Linked DNA regions of Homo sapiens. The protein of the gene in region 4 interacts with the protein of the main gene of each other region in a biochemical or structural test. Each region holds a gene or a part of one and is shown on either strand. Other genes may lie near its edges.

Evidence for each region.
Region 1: the proteins of CUL4B (region 4) and KPNA1 form a complex in vitro, tested with the Homo sapiens proteins (one study listed by BioGRID).
Region 2: the proteins of CUL4B (region 4) and DCAF10 form a complex in vitro, tested with the Homo sapiens proteins (one study listed by BioGRID).
Region 3: the proteins of CUL4B (region 4) and BRWD3 form a complex in vitro, tested with the Homo sapiens proteins (one study listed by BioGRID).
Region 5: the proteins of CUL4B (region 4) and WDR1 form a complex in vitro, tested with the Homo sapiens proteins (one study listed by BioGRID).
Region 6: the proteins of CUL4B (region 4) and MTA1 form a complex in vitro, tested with the Homo sapiens proteins (one study listed by BioGRID).
Region 7: the proteins of CUL4B (region 4) and DET1 form a complex in vitro, tested with the Homo sapiens proteins (one study listed by BioGRID).

Annotation. Positions count from the first base shown.
Region 1 is NC_000003.12:122,448,940-122,452,439, forward strand, and holds part of KPNA1 (importin subunit alpha-5), read right to left. Parts: intron 3,126-3,500; coding exon 3,037-3,125; intron 2,695-3,036; coding exon 2,595-2,694; intron 799-2,594; coding exon 635-798; intron 1-634. UniProt on the Homo sapiens protein: Functions in nuclear protein import as an adapter protein for nuclear receptor KPNB1. Binds specifically and directly to substrates containing either a simple or bipartite NLS motif.
Region 2 is NC_000009.12:37,842,297-37,845,796, reverse strand, and holds part of DCAF10 (DDB1- and CUL4-associated factor 10), read right to left. Parts: intron 1-3,500. UniProt on the Homo sapiens protein: May function as a substrate receptor for CUL4-DDB1 E3 ubiquitin-protein ligase complex.
Region 3 is NC_000023.11:80,680,878-80,684,377, forward strand, and holds part of BRWD3 (bromodomain and WD repeat-containing protein 3), read right to left. Parts: intron 3,286-3,500; coding exon 3,133-3,285; intron 1,752-3,132; coding exon 1,588-1,751; intron 1,218-1,587; coding exon 1,120-1,217; intron 623-1,119; coding exon 464-622; intron 1-463. UniProt on the Homo sapiens protein: Plays a role in the regulation of cell morphology and cytoskeletal organization. Required in the control of cell shape.
Region 4 is NC_000023.11:120,540,463-120,543,962, reverse strand, and holds part of CUL4B (cullin-4B), read left to right. Parts: intron 1-153; coding exon 154-236; intron 237-929; coding exon 930-997; intron 998-2,242; coding exon 2,243-2,361; intron 2,362-3,400; coding exon 3,401-3,500.
Region 5 is NC_000004.12:10,110,300-10,113,799, forward strand, and holds part of WDR1 (WD repeat-containing protein 1), read right to left. Parts: intron 1-3,500.
Region 6 is NC_000014.9:105,464,827-105,468,027, reverse strand, and holds part of MTA1 (metastasis-associated protein MTA1), read right to left. Parts: coding exon 3,165-3,201; intron 2,935-3,164; coding exon 2,845-2,934; intron 1,603-2,844; coding exon 1,450-1,602; intron 1,322-1,449; coding exon 1,286-1,321; intron 1-1,285. UniProt on the Homo sapiens protein: Transcriptional coregulator which can act as both a transcriptional corepressor and coactivator. Acts as a component of the histone deacetylase NuRD complex which participates in the remodeling of chromatin.
Region 7 is NC_000015.10:88,533,182-88,536,681, reverse strand, and holds part of DET1 (DET1 homolog), read left to right. Parts: intron 1-300; exon of another isoform or gene 301-347; coding exon of another isoform or gene 348-370; intron 371-3,500. UniProt on the Homo sapiens protein: Component of the E3 ubiquitin ligase DCX DET1-COP1 complex, which is required for ubiquitination and subsequent degradation of target proteins. The complex is involved in JUN ubiquitination and degradation.

The DNA.
Region 1 (3,500 bases), on a different chromosome or scaffold from region 4:
TTTTGTATTAATACATTATAACTATCTAATATATTCCAAATGTCATGTTTGCGACAATGTCTCTTTGCATCTACTTTGTACTTTAAATCTCCCATACCTTGTAACTGTACCATTTCTCCATTATGTTATCACTTTCATTTTTTTCTTCTGTAGTATCTAAAAATTTGATTAATACAGTCTCAAATTATTTATGTCACGAGTAAATCTTCCACTCCATTATCAAAAGCATCACGGAGATGATAAAGCAAAATAAGATTGAATTTCTGATACTTGTCTAAAATAAGCTCTAAATGAGACAGACAGATAAGGAATGACTATTTTAGTGGCAGTATGCCTTCTGATGTCCGGTGGTTGATCTCAGGCCATCCAGTATGAGCCTGGAACTACACATATCAGAGTTTTCCCAATGTTTCTGCTAAAGGCCTGCTAACAGCAGAGGACTAAGAGGTTCTCTATAAGCCTCAATAAAACAAGACAAACAGATCTGACATCAAAATAAACAAGTAACAAAAACAGTAGCCCAAAGCACAATAAATCAATTATCATGTACAATCCATTAATATTTAAGTATTAGCAGCTAGAAAACTAGTACCAAGGGAGAGAAAGTGGACACACTTTCTAAAAGATATCTTACATCAGCAGTTCCACAAGTCTCCTACATACTCCCGCATCGATGACCGCTTGAATTTTATCATTGGGTCCATCTGATAGATATGAGAGGGCCCAGCAGGCATCAGCCAGTACATCAGTGTCACTGACAAACAGCAACCAGGAAAGCACATTCAGACATGGAGAAACCTGTAAAAGGAAAATGATGATTATGAAATTCAATAGACTAAAAGCCAGAAGTGAGGTGAGATACTCAAGAAGGCAACCAGGCATGTACTTGGTGACTTCTAGGGTGATTTACACTTCTAAAGATGAAGCAGCAAGTACCTAAGTGGCATTTCCATCTTTGGCAATGTTGTCAGTGATCTTGCACTAATCTGTAGTCAAAGCCCAAGGAAAATAATTTCAGAGAGCAAAGTTTTATATACATCAATTCTTGGAGTAAGACTCCCTATCAAAACACATTCTTTGTGGACTAAACAGGTAAAGGAACTTTCACAAATGTGAAAACTAGGAAATTCTGTATTTTAGATACTTTGTTAAAGACCAAAAATGCTAAGGTTTTGTTCAGTGAAAAATGATTCCAAATTAAAAACAACTACAAAAATACCCATTTATTTTAATATCCAGAATCTGCAAGAAATTCAAATCAGCAAGAAAAAAAAATCCCATCAAAAAGTGGGCTAAGGACATGAACAGACAATTCTCAAAAGAAGATATACAAATAGCCAACAAACATATTAAAAAATGCAGCTGGGCGTGGTGGCTCACGCCTGTAATCCCAGCACTTTGGGAGGCTGAGGTGGGTGGATCACCTGAGGTCTGGAGTTCAAGACCAACCTGGCCAACATGGTGAAACCCCGTCTCTACTAAAAATACAAAAATTAGCCGGGTGTGGTGGTATGCGCCTGTAATCCCAGCTACTCGGGAGGCTGAGGCAGGAGAATCACTTGAACCTAGGAGGCAGAGGTTGCAGTGTGCCGAGACCGCGCCACTGCACTTCAGCCTGGGCAACAAGAGCAAAACTCCGTCTCAAAAAACCAAAAAACAAAAAATAGATGTTGGCATGAATGTGGTGAAAAGGGAACACTTTTACACTGTTGCTGGGAATGTAAACCAGTATAACCACTATGGAAAACAGTGTGGAGATTCCTTAAAGAACTAAAAGTATATCTACCATTTGATGCACCAGTCCCATTCCTGGGTATCTACCCAGAGGAAAAGAGGTCATTATAAGAAAAAGATACTTGTATACGCAGGTTTATAGCAGCACAATTCACAATTGCAAACACATGGAACCAGCCCAAATGCCCATCAATCAACAAGTAGATAAAGTCACTCAGGACTGGAAAACCAAACATCAGATGTTCTCATTCATAAGTGGGAGCTAAGCTATGAGGACGCAAAAGCGTAAGAATGATACAATGTACTTTGGGGACTCAGGGAGAAAGGGTCGGAGGTGGGTGAGAGATAAAGGACTACACACTGGGTACAGCGTACACTGCTTGGGTGTTGGGTGCACCAAAATCTCAGAAATCACCACTAAACAAGTAACTCATGTACCTAAACACCACCTGTTCCCCAAAAACCTATTGGAAAAAAAAAAAGAATCTCATGGACTCCCAGAGAACTCACAGACCACACTTTGAGAACCACTGTTTTAAGAGAACTGAAAGGATAGTCTCCTAAACAGTATACTAATTGTATGAAGCCTAATTTCAATAAGCTTTACAAATTCTTCCTTCATGCTATGCTTTATTTGCAGTCCCATCGTAAATGTGCACCTTCAAGCTATGCTCTAAATTTGCTTTTTAAATAATAAAGAGAACCAACAAAAACAACAACAACCCTGTTTCTCCAAAAACAGATAAAATTCTAACATTTTAAATTTTAACAAAAATTATCTTCCTGTTCACCTTACCATTGGTTGCAATACTCTTTTAATTGTATTTTTTCTGCCAATGTCCCAAAAGCATAGTCCTTACCTTTGCAAATTCTGGAGGTGGACTTTTCCCTCTACAGAGATTAGACAAAGCCCATACTGCATTCCGGGTCATGGTCAGGCGGTTTTGCTTTGAAAATAACCTAAAAGCACGATGGTACAATGGTAAACTATGTAACAGACAGTGATTATCTGATGACATAAATACTAAATAATAATACTTTTGATAAAGAGATGTCTTCAGATAGCTTTTCTCCAGAACATTAAAACTTCATTAATTCTGATGCAAGTAATTCAGAATTCAGAATTTTGGCATGGAAAAAGATAGGGTGCTTGAGGAAATGATCTAAACAAGAAAATATCTGGAATTAAAAATAACACTAGAAAATCCAAAATGATTTCCAAACATGTAATGCTTTCTGAGGAATCTCTTACATTTTTATTCTCAAAAAGAAAAAAAAAGGAAGAAGGAAGAAGAAACTTACTGCAAAAGAGGGGGAAGGATATTGCAGTCTAAGACATAGTCCCTGCACATGGTACTATCTCCAGCAATGTTGCCAAGAGCCCAGACTGCCTGTGAAAGAATCATTCATTAATAAAGGTTACATAGTTTAATTCCCTCATAATTCTTTCAGATGCCAGTATATCACAATAACACGTTCATCAGGGAGTCAAATGAAACAGTTGTAGGATTGGGGGAGGAAGATAAATAATATCCTAAAGTGTACAACAAACAGAAGGTATTCGGTTTATTAAAGGAAAGAACTAATTCATTTTTGTTTGTTTTTGTTTTTTGATACAGAATCTCGCTCTGTCACCCAGTATGGAGTGCAACACAGTGAAACTCCATCTCTACTAAAAATACAAAATTAGCCGGGTGTGGTGGCAGGCGCCTGTAATCCCAGCTGCTTGAGAGGCTGAGGCATGAGAACTGCTTGAACCTGACAGG
Region 2 (3,500 bases), on a different chromosome or scaffold from region 4:
CTTGCCAGTCAGAATAGATGCAGATGGCTGTGCTGGAACAGGGTCCTGGAATCGCCATATTGTGTAAGGGGGACTTTTGCTGCTGAATCATGGGAAGGTTTTGTGGGAGGTATCTCTAGAAGAGGGGCCTGGGTAGTCAGAGGGTGTCAGAGGGTAACTCAGGGCAGTGCCTATTTACGAATTGGTATGGAAGAAGTTCAATCTTTTAACAGTACTTCAGCTGAACCAGTACATATTGGCTAAATATTAGTCCTAGTAATAGGTCTATTTCAGGTTTTCTATTTCTTCCTTGGCCAGTTTTGCTAAGGTGTATTTTTTTAGTAAACTGGCTATTTCATCAAAGTTTTCAAGTATATAGGGATAAAGCTCATCTATCATCTTCTTCTATATTGTTGTCTCCTTTTTATTGCTGATATTAGTTATTTATGTCTTTTTTCTCTTGATGAATCTTGCCAGAGAATTGCCTATTCAATTAGCTTTTTTCAAAGAGCAGGCTTTTAAAAATCCTCTATTATATTTTCATTTTTGACATCATCAATTTTATGCTTTTACACTTATCATTTCCATACATCTACTTTCATCGGGTTTATCCTTTTACTTTTTTCCAGTTTTTTGAGTAAGATGCTTAGTTCATCAATTTTCAACCTGTCTTCAGTATGATTTCTTCTTTGATCCATAAATTATTTAAAAGTGAGTTTATAAGTCTCTAAACATGAGAATTTTTAATTAATAACTAAATGATACTAAGAACAGGGAAAATGGTTTGTGTGATAATAGTTCTTTGGTACCAGCTGAAACCTACTTTGTAGTTCAGTACATGCTCAATTTTTGTACTGGTTCTAAGTTTGCTTCAGAGGATGTTTTCACTAGTTGTTGGTAGCAGAAATCTAAATATGTGTAATACATCAAGCTTATTAATAATATTTAAATCTTCCACAGCCTTATCCATTTTTGTTTGTTGTTGTTGTTATTTTTCTTTTTTGAGACAGAATCTCACTCTGTCACCCAGGCTGGCCCACTGCCACCTCTGCCTCCCAGGTTCAAGCGATTCTCCTGCCTCAGTAGCTGGGATTACAGGCGTGTGCCACTAGGCCCTGCTAATTTTTGTGTTTTATTTATTTTTGTTGTTGCTGTTGTTATTGTTTTGAGACAGAGTCTGACTCTGTGGCCCAGGCTGGAGTACAGTGGCACAACCTCGGCTCACGGCAACCTCTACCTCCTGGGTTCAAGTGATTCTCCTGCCTCAGCCTCCCAAGTAGCTGGGATTACAGGTGCCAGCCACCACGCCTGGCTAATTTTTGTATTTTTAGTAGAGATGGGGTTTCTGCGTGCTGGCCAGGCTGGTCTCAAACTCCTGACCTCAGGTGATCCACCCACCTCGGCCTTCCGAAGTGCTGGGATTACAGGTGTGAGCCACCACACGTGGCCTAATTTTTGTATTTTTAGTAGAGATGGAGTTTCACCATGTTGGCCAGGCTGGTCTCCTGACCGCAAGTGATCTGCCCACCTCAGCCTCCCAAAGTGCTGGGATTACAGGCGTGAGCCACCATGCCCGGCCCATTTTTGTCTATCTTATCTAGATAAGTAAATGAGAGAATGCTGTTAATATTTTCCACTGAGATGGAGATTTCTCACTTCTTTCTTGTAATTCTGTCCACTTTTACTTTTTATAGTTTTATGCTATGTTTTTAGGCGCATACAAGCTTTTATATTTTAGTGAAATTAATCTTTTGTTATAGTACCTTTTTATCAGTAATGCTTTTTGTCTTAAACTTTATTTTGTTTGCTATTAATGTAGCCACAACTGTTTTGTCTTTGACGTATAATTGTTTGTTTTTTCTCATCCTTTTACTTTCAACTTTTCTAGGTTTGTATGTTTTAACTGTGTCCCTTACAAAGAAAATACAGTTCTGTTTTATTTTTAATCTAATCTAACACTGTCTATTTTTAACTGGACAGTTTAGCCCATATACGTTTATCACAGTTATTAATATTTGGATTAAAGCTTAGGTTATCTGCCTACTAGTTTTATGCTTTGTGAAATAACAAAAAATATTTTTCCTGAAATTAAGGAAATTTATTTTGTAAGCTAGTTTTCATCATGAACTATACAACTTGGTCTCCTTCCTGTATAATTTTCTCCAACTTTTTAGTTGCAGTATATGACTAGTTTTGTGCTTCCTAATTTACCTGTTCTTTTAAATAATTATCTTTTTTCCTTCCCTTCTCTGCTTCTATGGGATTGATCATGTTTTATTAGTTTTTTACCCTCTACTAATTTGGAAGTTACATTTATATTTCTATTCAAATTTTATTTCTAAATTTTAGTAAACAAATTCATTTAGTAGGTATGCTTGTCTTTGTCTAAAGATAACCAATAGTTTTTGCCTTCCACTCAAAGAGTATGGGTAGCTAGAAATCTCCAAGAATAGCCCCTCTCTTTTTACATATGACCTCTAAAAAGAATATTTCGAAAATGATGGCCACACACAGTGGCTCATGCCTGTAATCCTTGTATTTTGGGAGCTAAGGCAGGAGGATCACTTGAGCCCAGGAGTTCAAGACCAGCCTGGGCAGCATAGCGAGACCCCGTCTCTACAAAAAATAAAAAATTAGGTGGGCATGGTGGCTCATGCCTATAGTCCTAGCTGCTCAGGAGTCTGAGGCAGGAGGATCACTTAAGCCTGGGAGATCCAGTCTGCAGTGAGCTGTGACTGTACCACTGCACTACAGCCTGGGTGACAATGCGAGACCCTGTCTCAAAAACAACAACAAAAACAAATATACACAGAAATGATCATGGTGTGTTTACTATATTATCATTTCACCATAGCTAGCAAAGCAGGCATATTTTAATTGTTTTTCAAACTTCAACTCTTTAAATATCAATTTCTTTATAAGGAGACATTTTGTTGGAATGTTGCACAACAGAGGCATAACTGGCATTTTAGGTGGGACAACTAGTCCACTGTGCACACTGACCTGTGTACTGCAGGAGGTTTAGAAACTCTGGTCCTTGCTGACTACATGCTAGTAGATAGTTCTCTTCCCCCATAGTGACAACCAAAATTGCCCCACGCTTTATTCCTAAACATTCCCTTTGAGATCAGTACCATTCCAAATGAGAACTACTCTTTTAATGCATGAAAACAAAGAACAAAAATTGCAAAATAAATATATGTAGAATTGAGGGAAGAAAAAGTGAGAAACAGTTTAGTTTCACAGGAGAAATAACAAAAATATTTTTCCTTAAATTCAGGAAACTCTTTTTTTATAAGCCAGTTTTCATCATTAACTATACTACTTGGTCTCCTTCCTGTATAATTTTCCCCAAAATTTTTAGTTGCAATATATGACTAGGTACAATTAACAAAATATATCATCACTTTTTGGTTGCTTTTCCTAAAGCCAGTTTCCTTCTTGAGGCTAGGACAGAACACTGAATTTGTTCACCATCTTTAAAAAAAATGTTTTTGTTCATAATCCTAACATGGTCTCCT
Region 3 (3,500 bases), about 40 Mb from region 4:
AGCTCACTGTAGTCTCCTACTCCTGGCTAAAGCGCTCCTCCCACCTCAGCTTCCCGAGTAGGTATGAGTTGTATGCCACCACATGTGGCTACTTTTTTTTTTTTTTTTTTTTTGTAGAGATTAGGTCTTGCTTTGTTGTCCAGGTTGATCTCGATCTCCTGGCCTCAAGTGATCCTCCCACCTCAGCTTCCTAAAGTGCTGGGATTACAGGTGTGAGCCACCACGCCTGGCCCCATTTTACGTTTTAAGACTAAAATACATTTGAAAATAGCTATTGGAAATCTGCTAATGGCCTGTTCCCAGTTATGAATATGAAATGCCATCTGACTCATATGTGACAGAATTCTCATTAACTATAAGGATATACTAGTTTTTAGTATGTCAACATGTCAGCTTTTAAATGATTTATCTGCTATCATAAAGAAATAAATAATAAATGTCTTGTCCTGTATTTATTTCCTACCTTGTTTAACTGGCAAAACTCTATTCCGAAATGATTTGGCTTTCCCTGGGTCATGGCTATTTCCACTTCGGCTATATCCACCGAAGCTCGATGAAGAAAATGGCCCATCTGGCTCATCATCAAGTAGATATAGTGAAAGCCCTTCAGCAGCATCTGAAACTTACATTTTAAAAGATTTTAATACTAACATAATTATCATGTTTTCAGGAAAGTTAAACAGGCTACTTTTTGAAACCATATCTCTGTTATTTTATTCTAACACCAAAATTATAAGTTTCTCTAAGAAAATGATATGAATATTTTGAGAACAAAGGGTTGAATGTCAGAAAAACTTGTCCAATTGCTCATCATAAATTTTCAAATATTATGTTGGTAAATATATTGTAGATAAGTGCTCTGAGATATTATAGGCATCATTTAATCATAAAATTTTAAAACTAAGAGACTTTTCATGTAGTCTAATAAAGAAAAGGAATCATATGGCCTAATGTCATACTCAGGGACACAAAACTAGCAAGTAGAATTGGGAATAAAGCACAACTTTTAAAAATCTAAATCCATTGTTCTTTGCACTATAAACCATGCTGCCTCTTCTATATCCTTAATATCAGAATTAAACCGAGATGCAGAACACCAAAAACAAAAGACATATTTACCAGGAGATGAGAAAGGAGAGCTAGTCCTGGCATGAGATACTGAGGTATTCTGGTCATTTTTAGGCTGCAACTTCATTTGTTTCTGCTTCCCTTTTGGACTAGAAGTAAAAATATGTAACAACGAGCATTTTTTTTTTTCTGTTAGCAACATATTATGATAGACAGTATGATACAAAGAGGTATCAAGGTCAGGTATTAGCTGGCCAAAGAAGAAATGCCCTAAAATTCATGAAATAGATAATTTGACAGTGAAACTTCAATCATTAAAATTTAAAAAAAGTTTCTGGGATAGTAAAACCCACATAAATAGTACTTTTGATTACTAACTCTACATAGGCATAAGAGTTTAGGAAACAAACAAAAAAAGACCTCTTGGGATCTCCCCAAATTATTCATAAACTTTCACAAATTAGGTAATACATACAAAATGCTTTGAGAACAAAAAATGTTGCATCAATGTAATGATACCTAGGTGCTCCACTACTAGATAATGAACTGCTGCTGCTTCTTAGACGTTTTCTGTACCGTGGCCTTCTCCTCTTCTGACTCTGGATTGCTGACTTATATTCAGAGATGATATTTTTGATATGACTTTCAAATAAGGCAGATAATCGCAGCATCATGCTATAGATCTGAGAAGGCAGAAATTATATAGTCTTAACTAGTTTTATATTTTAAAAAAAGGTATAAACATGCCTAGACCAATATTAAGCATCATCATTACAGACAAAATATCTGTTCACTTGAAAAATTCTTCTCAAATAACTAAAGTAAGATACCATTTTCACCTAAAATAAATGTTTTTCAAATATAGTATTCAATGTTCTAAAAGGTAGGGAAAAAAAGACTCTGATACAATGCAAGAGAGAATGTAAACTGAAACAGCATTCTAAAGGACAATATGCAGTCTGTACAAAAAAACCTTAAAGATACACACATCCTTTGGCTAGTAATTTTACTTCTGGGAATTTGTCCTAAGGAAATATCACAGAATTATATACATAAAAAATATATTCAATAATGTTAAAGATATTACCTATAGCATTATTCATGTAAAATGGATAACTGGAAACAACCTAAATCCCTAGCCAAAGAACACTGGTTAGTATAACATAAAACAACCACACAACAGAATACCATTAAAAACCTTGTTTTCAAAGAGTCATGAGATACAGGAAAACATTCATAACACTTAAGTAACAAAAAATGCTTCAAAATACGAAATCCACTATTTTAAAGAATTTATAAGCATATGTAGATATATGTGTTAATGTAGAAAATCCTGGAAGTAAACAGTAACTGTAAGTAAAAATAGGTGATAGGTTTCACAGGTGATTTTTGTTTTCTTCTTTATACTTCTGTGTTTCCCAAACTTTCTATAGAAAATGTTACTCTAGCAATCAGGATCAAGGGGGAGGGGGAAGCAAGTGTAAACAAATTATGTTTGCAGAAATTAGTGGAAATGCATTTTCCATAAAGTGGAAGTAGGCAAATATATATTTACTGTGCAACTGATTAAAAGCTAATCAGATACCAGTGATTTCAAAAGAAAAACTTGATTACTATTTTTCTATTCTCAATATACTTTAAGTTCTGACAAAAATAGGGAAGATATTAAATGTGAGTATAAATAAGCAGTTACAACTTCCCAAGATGGTTCATTATTTGTTAGAATAAATGGAACATACATGTTCAGAGCTAATAAAAATATTTCACATAAATCAACACTGTCAATCACCTTTCTATTTATTAAGTCACTTATTATATTAAAGTGTACTTAAATTACTACCTCTCCTCTCCTTGTTTTTTCTCTGGTACCTATAAATATTTATTACTAAAGAGTAAAGAGACAAATAAGAGAAAGGAAAAGGTGGTTAATTTCAGAATGACTGCTAAATGTATCTTTATGCATGCCTAACAAGCAATCCATGTTTCAAAAAAGATACTGAGGACCAATTTTCAGTAACTGGTTAAAGAAAACTGCCTGATAATTAACCCAACTAATAATCATACCCTTGACTTTTTATTAGAGGTATAAGCTTTGGAGTTGTTGAATATTTGGCGAACATCCTTATAAAATTCCAGAGGACTACCATAGTTTCCTGCTTCCAAAGTTTCTTTCACAGTGCTGAAGTCCACAGGAGTATCTATAACATCTTGATAATCCTACAAAGAAGAATGTGTTATTAAATACTGTATAGCAATATTAAGGAATACAATGGGACTAAAATTGGTATCACCTACTACGATCCACCATGAAATAAACACATTGCTTTTCAATGTGCCAACTACCTCCCCACAACCCCAAAACATCTTTTGGTGGCTCATAAAAACAGCATAAGTCTGTGGGAAAGCCTTAGCCCTCACACCACAGTAATAAC
Region 4 (3,500 bases):
CAGAATTCTGGATCATAAACTCTACCTATAAATTTTTACATATGATTCTACCCTGTCACATTTGACAGGGCCACTTCCAGGATCTTTTGGACTTGACATTTTCTGAATGATTTATGGGGAGGAAAACAATAATGTAAAAAACTATCTTTGTAGGTTCCTGAATATCTACATCATGTTAACAAACGTCTAGAAGAAGAAGCAGACAGACTTATTACTTACTTAGATCAGACCACCCAGTAAGTACCACATGCTGAATTTAATAGTCTTAAACTGTCGTTAAATCACTTGCAGCACTTTAGCCATCCTAAACATGTTAGTAACTGTTTTCAGGTGTGATTTGAAGTGTTAACAGTTGTTTTCATAATACAAACTTCAAGTTATTCTTTTCCCTAGTTAATTAGTTTTCATCCAAGGATTCGATTATTAGGGGTGTGTGTGTGTGTGTGTGTGTGTGTGTGTGTGTGTGTTTAGAAGGTAATTTAGAAATAATACTAGAGGCTGATGTGACCTTTAAACTCTTCAGGCCAATTAAAATTCAGTGGATTCCCCTATTTCTGTGCTTTCCTAAGTATTAATATTGCCAGTCGAGGGGCCTCTGTATGTAGTACTTCTTTACCTTCCTAATAAAAGTAGCAAAACTTGGAAAAAGCCGACTACAGCAAGGTCTTGGAGATATTTATTTCGTTATGTAAACCAAATTCTAAAATATGCAGTGTTTTTTTAAAATTTTTGCCTGTCAGTTCCTTTATGTCTTTTTCTTTTAGGCATAAAGTATAGTAACTCTGAGCACCAATAAATTTATACATAGGATAGGAATCTTGAAATCAACATAAAATGAGCTATTTGATTTTTTTCCCCCCTCAGGAGAGGCTTTACATTTTCTGGAAGTCAAACGTCAATAATACTAACCTTTTTTTTTTTCCTTGTAGGAAGTCATTAATTGCTACTGTAGAAAAACAACTTCTAGGTGAACACTTAACAGCAATTCTTCAGAAAGGTAATTGGCAATTTGTAAATAAGAGATTGCTTTTTAAATGGTAGTGGCAAACTAGTAGGGAATTTTTAAAGATGTTGCCCTTTTAAAAGTTTGATAGCATGTGGCTGCATTTCTGAGGATGGACACAATCCTTATTAATCACAGTAAACTTCCTGGAGGTGCCAGTTTTCTTATCTGAAAGATACAGGAACTAGAAGAGAGGGATCCACAAATACCAATAAAAAAACAGTGGTTGATATGTGCCTGTAGTATCAGCTACTTGAGAGGCTGAGGCAGGAGGATTGCTTCAGCCCAGGAGTTTGAGGTCAGCCTGGGCAACATAGTGAGACTCTCGTCTCTTTAAATAAAATAAAAGAAAAAAAGTGGGAAATTCTTGACTTAATATGTAAGCTTTCAGTAAGGAAAGGTATTCCTTTTTACACTAAAGCGGTGAGGGTTTTTTGTTGTTCATGGCATGTCAAACCAAGCACTTCTAATCCCAAGTGAATTTAGAGTATACCCTACATTTTACTTTGAGAATGCCGCAAATAGGTAAAAGCCTTACCTTTCTCCCCAATAATATTTTCTTTTGTATAAAAATTTATATATTTAGAAATTTAATGCAGTTATACTGTTATTTCATCCTGGAAATCAAATATTTATTAGAGCCTCATTTAAATTTGACCTATTTATGCATGGCTTTTGATATATCACAGGCTATATCCAGTATTCTGAAATATAACTATGTACATAATATGGCTACTACATATATGAGGTATTTATAATGTATATTTATGTAAGCCAGTTTTTATAAGTTTGTTTTTGCCTCTAATCTATCATGCTAAATGGCACAAACCATTATGGAGTTAACCATTTTTCTTTTTCTTTTTAATTTTTTTAACTTTTTGAATTAAAATAGAGAGGGGGAGGGGGTCTTACTGTTGTGCCCAGGCTGGTCTTGACCTCCTGGCTTCAATTGATCCTCCTGCCTCAGCCTCCCAAAGTGCTGGGATTACAGGTGTGAGCCACCGTGCCTGGCCTGTTTTTATTTTTATAGCGACTAAAGTCTCTATATTTAGTTTTTACCCAGAAAGATGGTTGGGTTTAATTCAAAGGAAATCTTACATTACAACTCACATACAGACTAGTCATAGTTCAAACCAGTATCACAATAATGATTATAACTCAAATTTTATTAAAATGTCTGATAATCTTGTTCACTTTTTTGTTCACTATATTTTAATGCCAAAATGTTTTAAAATACAGGTTTAAATAACCTCCTTGATGAAAACCGAATTCAAGATTTGTCTCTTCTGTATCAGCTCTTCAGTAGAGTTCGAGGTGGAGTTCAGGTTCTTTTGCAGCAGTGGATCGAATATATCAAGGTATTAACAATTTACCTGTGATTTTTCTCTCTTATGGCTTATCTACACATCAAGAGTGCATATTGGCAAGCATTTCTTGTTTGATCCAATTTTTTTTTTTTTGAGACAGAGTTTTGCTCTCGTCACCCAGGCTGGAGTGCGGTGGCACGATCTTAGCTCGCTGCAACCTCTGCCTCCCAGGTTCAAGTGATTCTCCTGCCTCAGCCTCCCAAGTAGCTAGGATTACAGGCATGCACCACCATGCCTGGCTAATTTTGTATTTTTAGTAGAGACGGGGTTTCACCATGTTGGTCAGGCTGGCCTTGAACTCCTGAACTCAAATGATCCACCCGCCTTGGCCTCCCAAAGTGCTGGGATTACAGGCGTGAGCCACCACACCCGGACTTGATCCAGTTCTTTTAAGGGAATTTTAAATTTGTTTAAAAAGTAATGGGAATTTTGAGAACAGTCAACCTGAGAATGGTAGCTGTGTGGCATATCAGCTATAAAACCTGATTGATGGCTGACATAATTTCTGTCTCTACCACTTAAAGCAGTAAATGTAGAAAAAGACTTTGAACCCCAAATTTCTTTCCTTTCTTCAATCTTACACTAAAGCCAGATTGCCATTTTAAGGAAGTTGAAAGCTGACTTCTTTAAAAATAAGGAAAAGATCCCAGAGGCTTCTAATAATACCCTGTTATGATATCATATGCCCAGTGATCATTGCTTACTATTTTTGTGATTATAGATGAGTGGTTAACAGTGTGGATATTTAGCACTTTATTTTTTTGTCCTCATTTCACTATCAGCTTTATTTTGCCAGGTGCAGTGGTACATGCCTGTAACTCCAGCTACTTGGGAGGCTGAGGCAGGAGGATCCTTTCAGCCTAGGAGTTTCAGACTAGCCTGGGCAACATAGCAAGATTCCATCTTAAAAATAGCTTTATCTTACTTTTTAAAGATCTTTAAATATATATGCCACTTAAAATATGATTTGGGGATTGTTTTCATTGTAGACAATTCGATTACAGTAAAAAGTGGTAATTTTTTGTTTTAGGCATTTGGCAGCACTATTGTAATTAATCCTGAAAAAGATAAAACCATGGTTCAAGAATTGCTGGATTTTAAAGATAAGGTTGACCATATAATTGATATCT
Region 5 (3,500 bases), on a different chromosome or scaffold from region 4:
GGGCCTTGCAGAAGGTGGAGGTCACTCTCCAAAGAAGCATCTCCAACTACTCTTGGGCAAGGCCATCTCTCCAGTAGTCTTACGCATGAGGCTAAACCTCTTCTCTTACCTCAAAGATGGCTTCAGTATCCCTCCCGTTACCTCCAACAGGGCAAGAAATGTACCAAAAGCAACACACAGGAGGCCACAGTGGGGCTGAGAGGACCCAGGTACACATGCTGTTTCCTGCCTGGTTTCTCCCCACCTCTGCCGTGTGTCTCAACGCTCCTCCTGGAGAACTCTTATTCATCCTTCAAGACCCAACTCAAATGTGGCACTTCTCCAGCAGCTGTCCCCGCTCTGTGGCACAGCTGGCTCCTCCCTCACATTCCCAGAGCACCCAGGGCATTGTTCTTTTGAAGCACTTAACCTGGTGCCTTCGAAGGTTCTTTACCAGAGTTTTCAACCTTGGTACCCCTGGCATTTGGGGCTGGACAGTTCTTTGTGGAAGGACGGCCATGTACCTTGTCGGATGTTTGGCCACAACCCTGACTTCAGATACCAGTGGCACAAAAATGTCTGCAAACGTTGCCAGATATCCCTCAGGGGAATGAGGTGGGGGAAATTACCCCTCCCTGAAAATCACTGATTTTAATCCTGGTCCTCTGTGGCTTAGGGTATGGCTTGCCAAGACAGGGGCTTAGTGAACATGTGTGGGAAACGTGAGAGCCAGAGATGGCTGCACCACGCAACGGAACCTGCGCTGACGCCGCCTTCATCTTTGAGCAGCTTCCTAATTGGCTTCCCTGCCTCAGATCTCAGATACAGAACTTCTCCTTACCGTAGGCTGGATCTGATTACTTGTCTGTGAGACCTCTGAATGGCTCCAGTGGCCTTCAGAGCAGGGCTGCGCTATGGTAGGGCTGTGTGAGCCACCTGCCACCACTGCACACCAGCACTTCTCAGCCTGGGTCCTGTCCACTCCCCTCACGCTCAGTGCCACAGTAACAGCCCATAAGCACCCGGCCCTTCGGTCCTCCCAGATGTGGTCCCATCTGCAGAAGCCCAGCGTCCTGACTGGCACCTGCAGCCACTCAGATTCTCCTGAGATGAAGGCCCCCCACCACCCTCTGCTTCCCCTGCCATCAGGTGGTCAGACTGAAGGCCTAGAGGTTCCTGGCTCTGCACCTGGCAGGCGCTGCTGCCAGCTCGTTTGCACCCAGGTGATAATCCAACGCACCACTTCCTTCTGCCACCTAGAGTTTATTTCACTCCCACCCAGGACAGTGAGCTCCATGTGGGCAGGGCCTCCATCCTGCACCCCCACAGGCCAATGGCCATCTGGATACACGCAGGTAGTCAGCAGGCGTCCAATTCCGGAGAAGCAGCTAGGTCAGTCCTCAAGCCCTCTGTCATGCCACCATTACCCCCAACCCGCAGGAAACACAGGTGAGTCCTCTGCATGTGAATGGTGGCAGCTCACACCAAGGGAAACCAAGAGTGAGCCCAATACCCTCCCCAACCCCCCACTTGGTCTGCCCCCTGTTCAAGGAGAAAAGTCCACTGATACTGCGCCTGGGTTCCCAGCAGTGTCAAATTGCTATAAACCTTGCACTCCCGGAAACTCAATTTTATAGACATCATTTTTCCAAATGTGTATTTTAGTTCTGGAATCTAGGAACTGGATACTTTAAAAACCAGGCCCCAAACTTGCCTGCATAGCAAATCTGCTGGCTGCCTGGCAGCACACAAGAGGGCCTCTGTTGTGAGGCAAAAGTTGCTTTTTTTTTTTCTTTTTCTAAACAGGGACTACTGGCACTACTGGCATTTTAGGCTGGGTAATTTTTATTGTAGGATGGTCCCGTGCCCTGTTTAGAATCACAAACAGGTTCGTTCACAGCCATTGGGGGTGACCCTTCCCAGTCTTTGCACAGAGGTCATAAGAGGCAGAGGTGATGCAGGCAGGGTAAGGAAACTTAGAAGGAACCACCCCAGACCTAAGGAGGTACCAGCACCTGCAGGAAGCCTTCCTTAGACCCCCGAAGCACAGACTATCCATCCCTTCTCCGTGGGGAACTAATGTCTCTCAAACACAGTGTACATATGGTTCACTGGAATCCCCTTCTTGGAGCTCTCTCCTTCTGGAATATTAGTTTCTACATGGCCACCATTATAGTCTTTCACTCTACAGAGGAGAGTTGCCTCTCCAGGTGAGGCAACGAGATGTGTTGAAATAAACAGGTAAGAAACACCCTTTTTCTACAAGTTTAAGAAGTGCCATTATGCTGGGTTCACAAAACAGCTTTTAAGTCAACAAAATAAATGACAGAGGGGGCTCCAAGTGCAAAGCTGGCAACGGTGCTCGCCTCTTAGGTATGAAAGGCGATTCCACAAAATTTAGGTCCGGCAATCTACACTGAGCTGAGCTTTCCTTGTTCTCATGCAGTAAGACCTCAGTGGCTGCCTATTATCTTCACGACACAGCCTGGTTTTCCAGGCTTTTTAATCAATGAGTAACTCACTGAGCACCTACTGTGTGCCAGACACTCTCTTAGGCGAGGACACGGCAGTGACTGAAAGAGAGGGGAAAGCCCTGCTGGCCTGGAGCTGATGCCCAGTTAGGGGGACAGGCAGATACCTATGTACACTTGTAGGCAGCCGTAGCCTGCTGCTTGTTAGCTTGCTTCCTACTTATTGTCAGCAATGAGAAAGACAGAAGGCCGGGGATGGAAAATTCTATTCCGGGGACACCCCTCTACTAAGGTGACTACATCTAAGTATAAACCAAAGGGAAAGGCCTAGTGTGGTGGCTCACGCCTGTATCCCAGGACTTTGGGAGGCCAAGGCGAGCGAGCAGATCACTTGAGGTTGGGAGTTCAAGATCAGCCTGGCCAACACGGCGAAACCCCGTTACCTACTAAAAAATACAAAAATTAGCCAGGTGAATTGGCACGTACCTGTAGTCCCCACTACTCGGGAGGCTGAGGCAGGAGATTTGCCTGAACCCGGCAGGTGGAGGTTGCAGTGACCCAAGATCACGCCACCGCACTCCAGCTTGGGCGACAGTAAGCCTCCACCTCAAATTAAAAAAGAAAAACCAAAGAGAAGACAGGGAGCAAGACTTGCAGCTATCTGAGAAAATGTCCAGGCAAAGGCAATAACTAGCAGGTACCAAGACAGATGTGTGGCATGTTCAAGAAGCAGCAAGGAGGCAAGAACGCTGGAGCCGAGGCCACGGTAAGGACTCTGGCTTTCACCGAGGTGGGAAGCCACTAGAGGCCTGTCTTGTGTTTCAGCCACTCCAGCGAGTGTTGTGAACAGACCCCCAGGGCAACAAGGGTGAAAGCAAGGAGACCTGTTTGGTTTTCGGGAGTCTGGGGGCAATAAGTCAGGTGGGGGAAGATAGCTTAGTCGTGGGTGGAGGCAGAGGAAGCCAGGGAAATCTGTTAGATTCTGAAGATACTTTGAATGTGGAGTCAGAAGGATTTACTAAAATTAAAATGTGGCGCAGTAGCGAAGCA
Region 6 (3,201 bases), on a different chromosome or scaffold from region 4:
GGCTGACCCCTCTGAGCCCAGGGCCCCGCCCAGCCAGGCGGCAAGGGGTGATGCTCCCTCACAAGCACTGCATGGCTGGGACTCACGTGTGAGGTGTGGAAAATTCAGTGGGAACAAATAAGCTTTTATGTAACTTGCTGGTTAACCGCTTTTTACAAAACAAAACAAAAAGCTCGAAGATGCCTGCTGACAAGGACTCCCTCCTGTTTCTACCAGCTCTTATGGGGCTGTTCCTGGGACGCCCTGCCATTAGGAACAGACAAGTAAAGCCAGCCCAGAGTGGGCTGGCCCTGGGCCCAGGACTAGGCAATGGGGGCAGCCCCAATACCAGATGGCTGGGAGGGTGCCCCAGGAAAGGAGGGCTGGGGCTGGGGCCGAGACACAGACACCGCCAAGGGATGTCGGGAGGAAGCTGCAAGGACAGGCCAGGGGTGCGTGTCCAGACAGGTGGAGATGGGGGGCCCGGCACCCGATCTCAGGCCCACCCTGCGCTGCAGCCGGCGTGCTGACCCCACAGGACGTGCCTGCCAGGACACCCAGCAGCCTCGAGAGAATGCCCCAAGGGGACAGGGTTGGCTGGGCTGGGCAGCCACTACCCATATCCACCTCCAGGTCGCCAAACCGGCCCTGCTGCCCTGGCCAGCACCGTCAGTGAAAGCCGCCTGGCGAAGGGGCTCCAGGCACATCCACACTGGCAGGCCCAGCACTTGCACACCCGGGCCCCACACACCTGGCCTCCTCATGCTAGGCTTGGTCCTATCTGCTCTTCCCCAAGGGGCCTGGGGTCCCGCAGCCCCTGCTCCAAGCAACCGGCACAGAGCACCTGAGCCAGTCCTCCGACAGAAGGCACCCATGTGTACAAGCTCAGTTGCCCACGGCCCACACAGACACCCCCGACCACCCTCCCCACTGTCCCGCCTGGCAGGCGCACGGAAGGATTGCAGGCACAGCACGGGCGGCCCCACGAGCTGAGGCTGGCAGCATGCGGGCAGTCACAGCGCGATGGCAGACAGCGCAGGCAGGGGCGCCAGGGCCACACGTGCCAGGACAGTCCACTGACAGGAGGCGGGGCCAGGGGGCCGAGGGCCAGATGCCTGGGCTCGGGGGGTCTTCACCAAGGGACCAGTGATGTCGGGAGGAATGTGGGGAACTGGGCTGTGGCCTGGCTCACGTGGACTGCCCCAAGCATGGGCCCTGGGCCGCCCGCCGCGGGGACACAGAGCAGCACAGCACAGGCATCACGGGCGGGGCCGGCGCAGCGCCCGCCCGCGGCTCCAGGCCTTACCCCTACTGGGCATCAAGAGGCGCTTCTTCATGTTGCCTGGCAGCGCCGGGGTGGGAGAGAGGGAGAGAAGACAGCGTCAGCACGCACGGCGGGTGCCCGGGCGGGGACGGGCCGGACTCACCGGGCGGGGAGGGCCACACTCACCGGGCGGGGGGGCCACTCACCGTCCACCCCGTTGTGCTGCTCGTAGCTGCGCTTGCCCAGGATGGTGGGGGAGCCGTTGTTGATGACGGGGGCCACCTTGGCGGGCGTCAGGCTGCTGAGCACGCTGGACACGCTTTTCACGGGGTCAGGCTTGGGGGGGCGGGGGTGGGTCTCTGCCGGGAATGACACAGGCAGAACGAGTTGCCTCTGCCCAGCAGGGGAGGGGCAGGCAGGCCCAGGCTCCAGCCCTCATGGTTCCGGGATACCCCCAGGAACTAAGCCCCATGCGGCCCCCACCCGAGGCCCCATCCTGACTGGGCTGGAAGTGGGGAGGTCACCACAGAACCAGAAGCCCAGAAGCCCTCGGCAAGGCGTGTGCCCGGGCCAGTCCCGCACCCCAGGGCTTCCAGAGAGCAGGGAGACCACCTGGCGGGGGCCAGGCCCCTCAGCCCCGGGACAACAGGATCCATACACAGGCCCGTGAGCACAGCACGCCTATTAAACAGCCCCCACGTCCAGGCCCCCGGAGCTGCTGGTGGAGGGCTGGCTGCTCGTCAGACAGCGAACCAACCATCCAGCCAGCCTGGCCAGGGACACAGCTGCTGAGGACCAGCCCTGACACCAGCCACCTCTTCCCACAGGACAGGGGCCACAACCCCAAACAGGGAGCAATGCCAAAGCCACTTGAATCTCAGAGCACACTTGGCTCATGACTCTGGAATGTCCTTCTCAGGACAGTCACCCTGTGTCGGGAGGGCAGATGCACAAGCCCACTCGAGCCCAGCAAATGGAGGAGGCCCCCCACCGCCACCACAAATGTCTGGCCCAGCCACCAAGCTGCTTCCAGCTGGGCCAGGGTAGCCGGCTGAGGTTCTCGGGTGTCCTCAGATGCTCAAAGGCAAAGGAACCCCCTGCCGCCTGAGGCTGCTCCTCCCCCTGCCGAGGGCGTGCAGAGGCCTGAGTGCTGCCCCTGTGGAGTGGGCGTGGCTCAGGAAGTATACTCCCTGCAGGCAGCAGGTACGACGCTGCCTTAATGGTATTACAGGCAGGGGTGTGCACCACCTAAACCCCAGACCCTCAGGCCCCAGGGACGATCAGAACACAGGGAACAGGGTAGCGAGACTGGCAGGGAAGCCCCCGGGTGTGCCTTGAGGAGGCTGGCCCCGCAGAAGACAGGGCGGCCGCTACTCCGCACTGGGCCCCATCACGACCCCAGGAGCAGGGAGCAGCCTGGGTCCCAGTGGGTCTGCCTGAGCCTGGCACGGTGCAGAGTACCCCAAAAGGACAGTTCCAGGCCCTGGGGGGCTGTCCAGGAGCTCCCAGCTAGAGAAGGCTGGGAGCACCAGTGCATGAGCTTGGGTGAGAAGCTGCCTGCAGGCAGCATTGGGAGCCCCCCAGCACGCCTGGCTGCTCACCAAGATACCGAAGCACGGCTTCCAGCGGCTTGCGTACCGCCTGCTTCAGCACCAGCGGGCTCTGGGAGGCTTCGGGCAGCCGCGCCGTGCCTGCGGGGTACCACACGGTGTGAGGGGTGGGGCACCCCCAGGGGAGCACGGGACCCTGCCTGCGCCTTGACCTGGGAGCCCTCACTGGGCTCGGCCATGTCAGCACCGAGGAGGACGTGGGGCTCCCTGAGATCAGAACTCCCAGTGGGGCTACAGGCTGGGCCCCAAGGTTGCTGCTCTCTCCCCACCACCCGCAGGAACAGAGTAAGCGGGGCGTTGGGGTGACTCACACTCGGCCTTGATGGCCGCGCTGTTGATGGGCAGGTA
Region 7 (3,500 bases), on a different chromosome or scaffold from region 4:
CTCCTGCCTCAGCCTCCTGTGTAGCTGGAGTCCCCGCCACCATGCCCAGCTAATTTTTGTATTTTTAGTAGAGATGGAGTTTCACTATGTTGGCCAGGCTGGTCTCGAACTCCTGACCTTGTGACCTCCCTGCCTCAGCCTCCCAAAGTGCTGGTATTACAGGCGTGAGCCACTGCACCCGGCCAGTTTGTTCCTCTTTTACTTTGTTTAGTGTATTCTTATTCTTCAAGGCTCATACCAATTGTTGCTCCATTAATTATTTTAACATATTTATGAGCGCTTAACTGTCCCTTCTCCTAGGTGCTGGGAATACAGCAAGGAATTAGACCAGTTCCCTGCTCTCTGGTATGGTGGGACAGATACTAAAAAGGTAAACAACTTAATTTCAGGAAGAGATAAAGACCATTAATAATATAGGGTGTATCAGTAAATTCATGTGGGCAGACGTAAGGTGCCTGGGGAAGATTTCTGAGGAGGTACTATTTTAGCTGAGACTTGAATGATGAAACAGAGGCAGATCTTTCAGCACTTAAATAATGTTGTTCCACTTCTTTCTAACTTCCATGGTTTCTGATGAGAAATCTACAGACATTTGAATTGTTGCACCTCTATAGGTGATACGTGGTTTCTATCTGGTTACTTTAGAGGTTTTTACTGTATATCTTTTAGTTTTTTCCATTTTAGCTATGATGTGCCTGGGCATGGATTTCTTTGGATTTATCATATTTGAGGGTCTCTGAACTTCCTGAATTTGGGGGGTCTCTGAACCTTTTGAATTGGAGTTTATATCTTTAGCCAAATTTGGGAAATTTCCTTCCTCCTTCCCTTGCTTCCTTCCTCTCTCCCTTCCTTTCTTCTTTCCTTCCTTTCTTTCATCTTTCTTTTTTTCCCCTTCCTTCCTTTCTTTCTTTCTTTTTTTCTTTCTTTTGACAGAGTCTCACTGCATTGCCCAGGCTGGAGTGCAGTGGCATGATCTCAGCTCACTTCAGCCTCTGCTTCCCAGGCTCAAGTGATCCTCCCACCTCAGCCTCCTGAGTAGCTGTGACTACAAGTGCACACCACTGTGCCCGGCTACTTTTTGTATTTTTAGTAGAGATGGGGTTTTGCCATGATGCCCAGGCTGGTCTTGAACTCCTGGGCTCAAGCAATTTGCCCATCTCAGCCTCCCAAAGTTCTGGGATTATGGATGTGTGCCACCACCACCAACTATTACAGCCATTATTTCTTAATTTTTTTTTTTTTTCTTAGCATTCTACTCCTCAAGATCAGGGTGTTACAACTTTTGATATTTTCCCTAGGGCCCTGAGGCTTTACTGACTTTTTTTCAGTCTTTTTATTTTTTCCCTCTTTTGTTCACATTGGGTAATGTATACTAATCTATCTTCAGGGTGACTGACTCATTTCTCTGATGACTTCATTCTGCCCTTGAGCCCATCAGTGAGTTTTTTATTCTTTTTCAGAATTGTTTTTAAATTTTTAAAAGATATTTTACTAGAGTCTATGGAAGCTAGAAGAGTTTTGTATGCTGGTTATTGCTTTTTCAGCTCTAAACTTCTTATCTGGATCTTTAAGAAATATCTTCTGTTTCTTAGCTGAGACTTTGTTTTTCCATCATTTCAAGAGTGTTTGTGATTACTTATTGGAACATTTTTATAATAGGTACTTCAAAATCTGTCTCAGAGAATTCCAACTTTTGTAGCATCTCAACATTGGTGTCTGTCAATTGTCTTTTCTAGATTGAGTTTTTTCCTAGTACTTCATATGCTGAATGATTTTGGATTGTTTCCTAGACATTTTGAATATTATAAGATGATAGGGCTTGTTTAAATCCTAAGAGGATGTTGGTGATTTTTGGCTTGGTAGGCAATCTACCTAATTAGCTTCAGGGAATTTGCAATTTGTAACTCTCTTTAGGCTATGGTTCTAATGGCAGATGAATTTTCAGAAAGTCTTTGCAGTGCTATTTGGATCTGTCCCATGTATGTGACATTCAGTGGCCAGTCTGCAATCTGGGTGTTGATTATTTCAGTTCTCAAAGCCTTTAGTATGATTTGGACCAGATCCACACGTGTGCAGCTTGGGAGTTCATGAACAACTTCATGATGTTACTTTTCTGAGCTCCTCCCCATCTGATATCTCCCCAGTACCTTCTGGTTCCACTGGGGTCTCCCTTTTGATCCTCTGATGACAAAATTGGGGCTTTAATTATCCTTCCTTGCAACACACTTGCTCTTCAAGCAGCAGGAGAACCAGGGGAGACAATGTTAACCTCACTGCCCATTCAGTGGTACTTTATTGTTAGCCAATTGGTTTTTCTCATATGCCTGTCTTATGCATTCTGTCTAGGTTTTATAGCTGCATTTTTAGTGGGAGAGAGAAGGTGGTGTTTGATTATTCCATCTTATCTGGCAACAGCTTTATAACTTAAGTTTTTCACTAAATGCCGTTGACTTTTATGGCCTGTGATTTAACTTTGATTTGAATCAAGGTATAATAAAACAATTAGAAGACTTTGCCATATAATAGATGCCCCATAAATATTAAAACATATTTTTATTGTGATTTTAAAATAGCCTAACATTTACCGTCTTAACTGATTGTAAGTGTACAGTTCAGTAGTATTAAGTATATTCACATTGTGAAATTGATCTCGAGAAGTTTTTCATCTTGAAAATCTGAAAAGTCTAACCCATTCAACAGCACCTTCTCTTTCCCCTCCTGCTAGTCCCTGGTGACCACCATTCTTCTTTGTTTCTGTGAATTTGATTCCTTTTTCTTTTTTTAATGATAAGTATTTTACATTAATTTTTTTTTTTTTTTTTTTTTTTTAGAGATTGGGTCTTGCTCTGTTGCCCAAGCTAGACTCAAACTCCTGGGCTCAAGTGGTCCACCTCAGCCTCCCAAGTAGCTGGGATTACAGGTGTGTGCTATGGCACCTGGCTGTTAAATTTGATTACGTTTGATACTTCATTTAAGTGGAATCATACAGTATTTGTCTGTTTGTGATTGGCTTATTTGACTTCACATAATGTCCTCAAGTTTCAGTGATGTAGCATATGTCAGAATTTTCTTCCTTTTGAAGGCCGAGTAATATTCCTTTGTGTGTATATACCATATTTTGTTTATCCACTCATCCATCAGTGAACTTTTGGGTTGCTTCCATCTCTTGACTACTATGAATAGCGCTGATATGAACATGGGTGTGCAAATATCTCTTAGAAATCCTGCTTTCAGTTATTTTGGATTTATACCCAGAAGTAGAATTGTTGGATCTTATGGTAGTTCTAATTTTCTTCAAGGAACCTTCATACTGTTTTCCTTAGTAGCTGTACTATTTTTCAGTTCCACCAACAATGCACAAGGGTTCAACTTCCTCTATGTCCTCAATGAAACTTGTCATTTTCTTTTTTTAAAAAAAGCAGTCGTTCTAATGGGTGTGAGGTGATATCCCATTGTAGTTTTGATTTACATTTCTCTGATGATTAGTGATGTTGAGCATC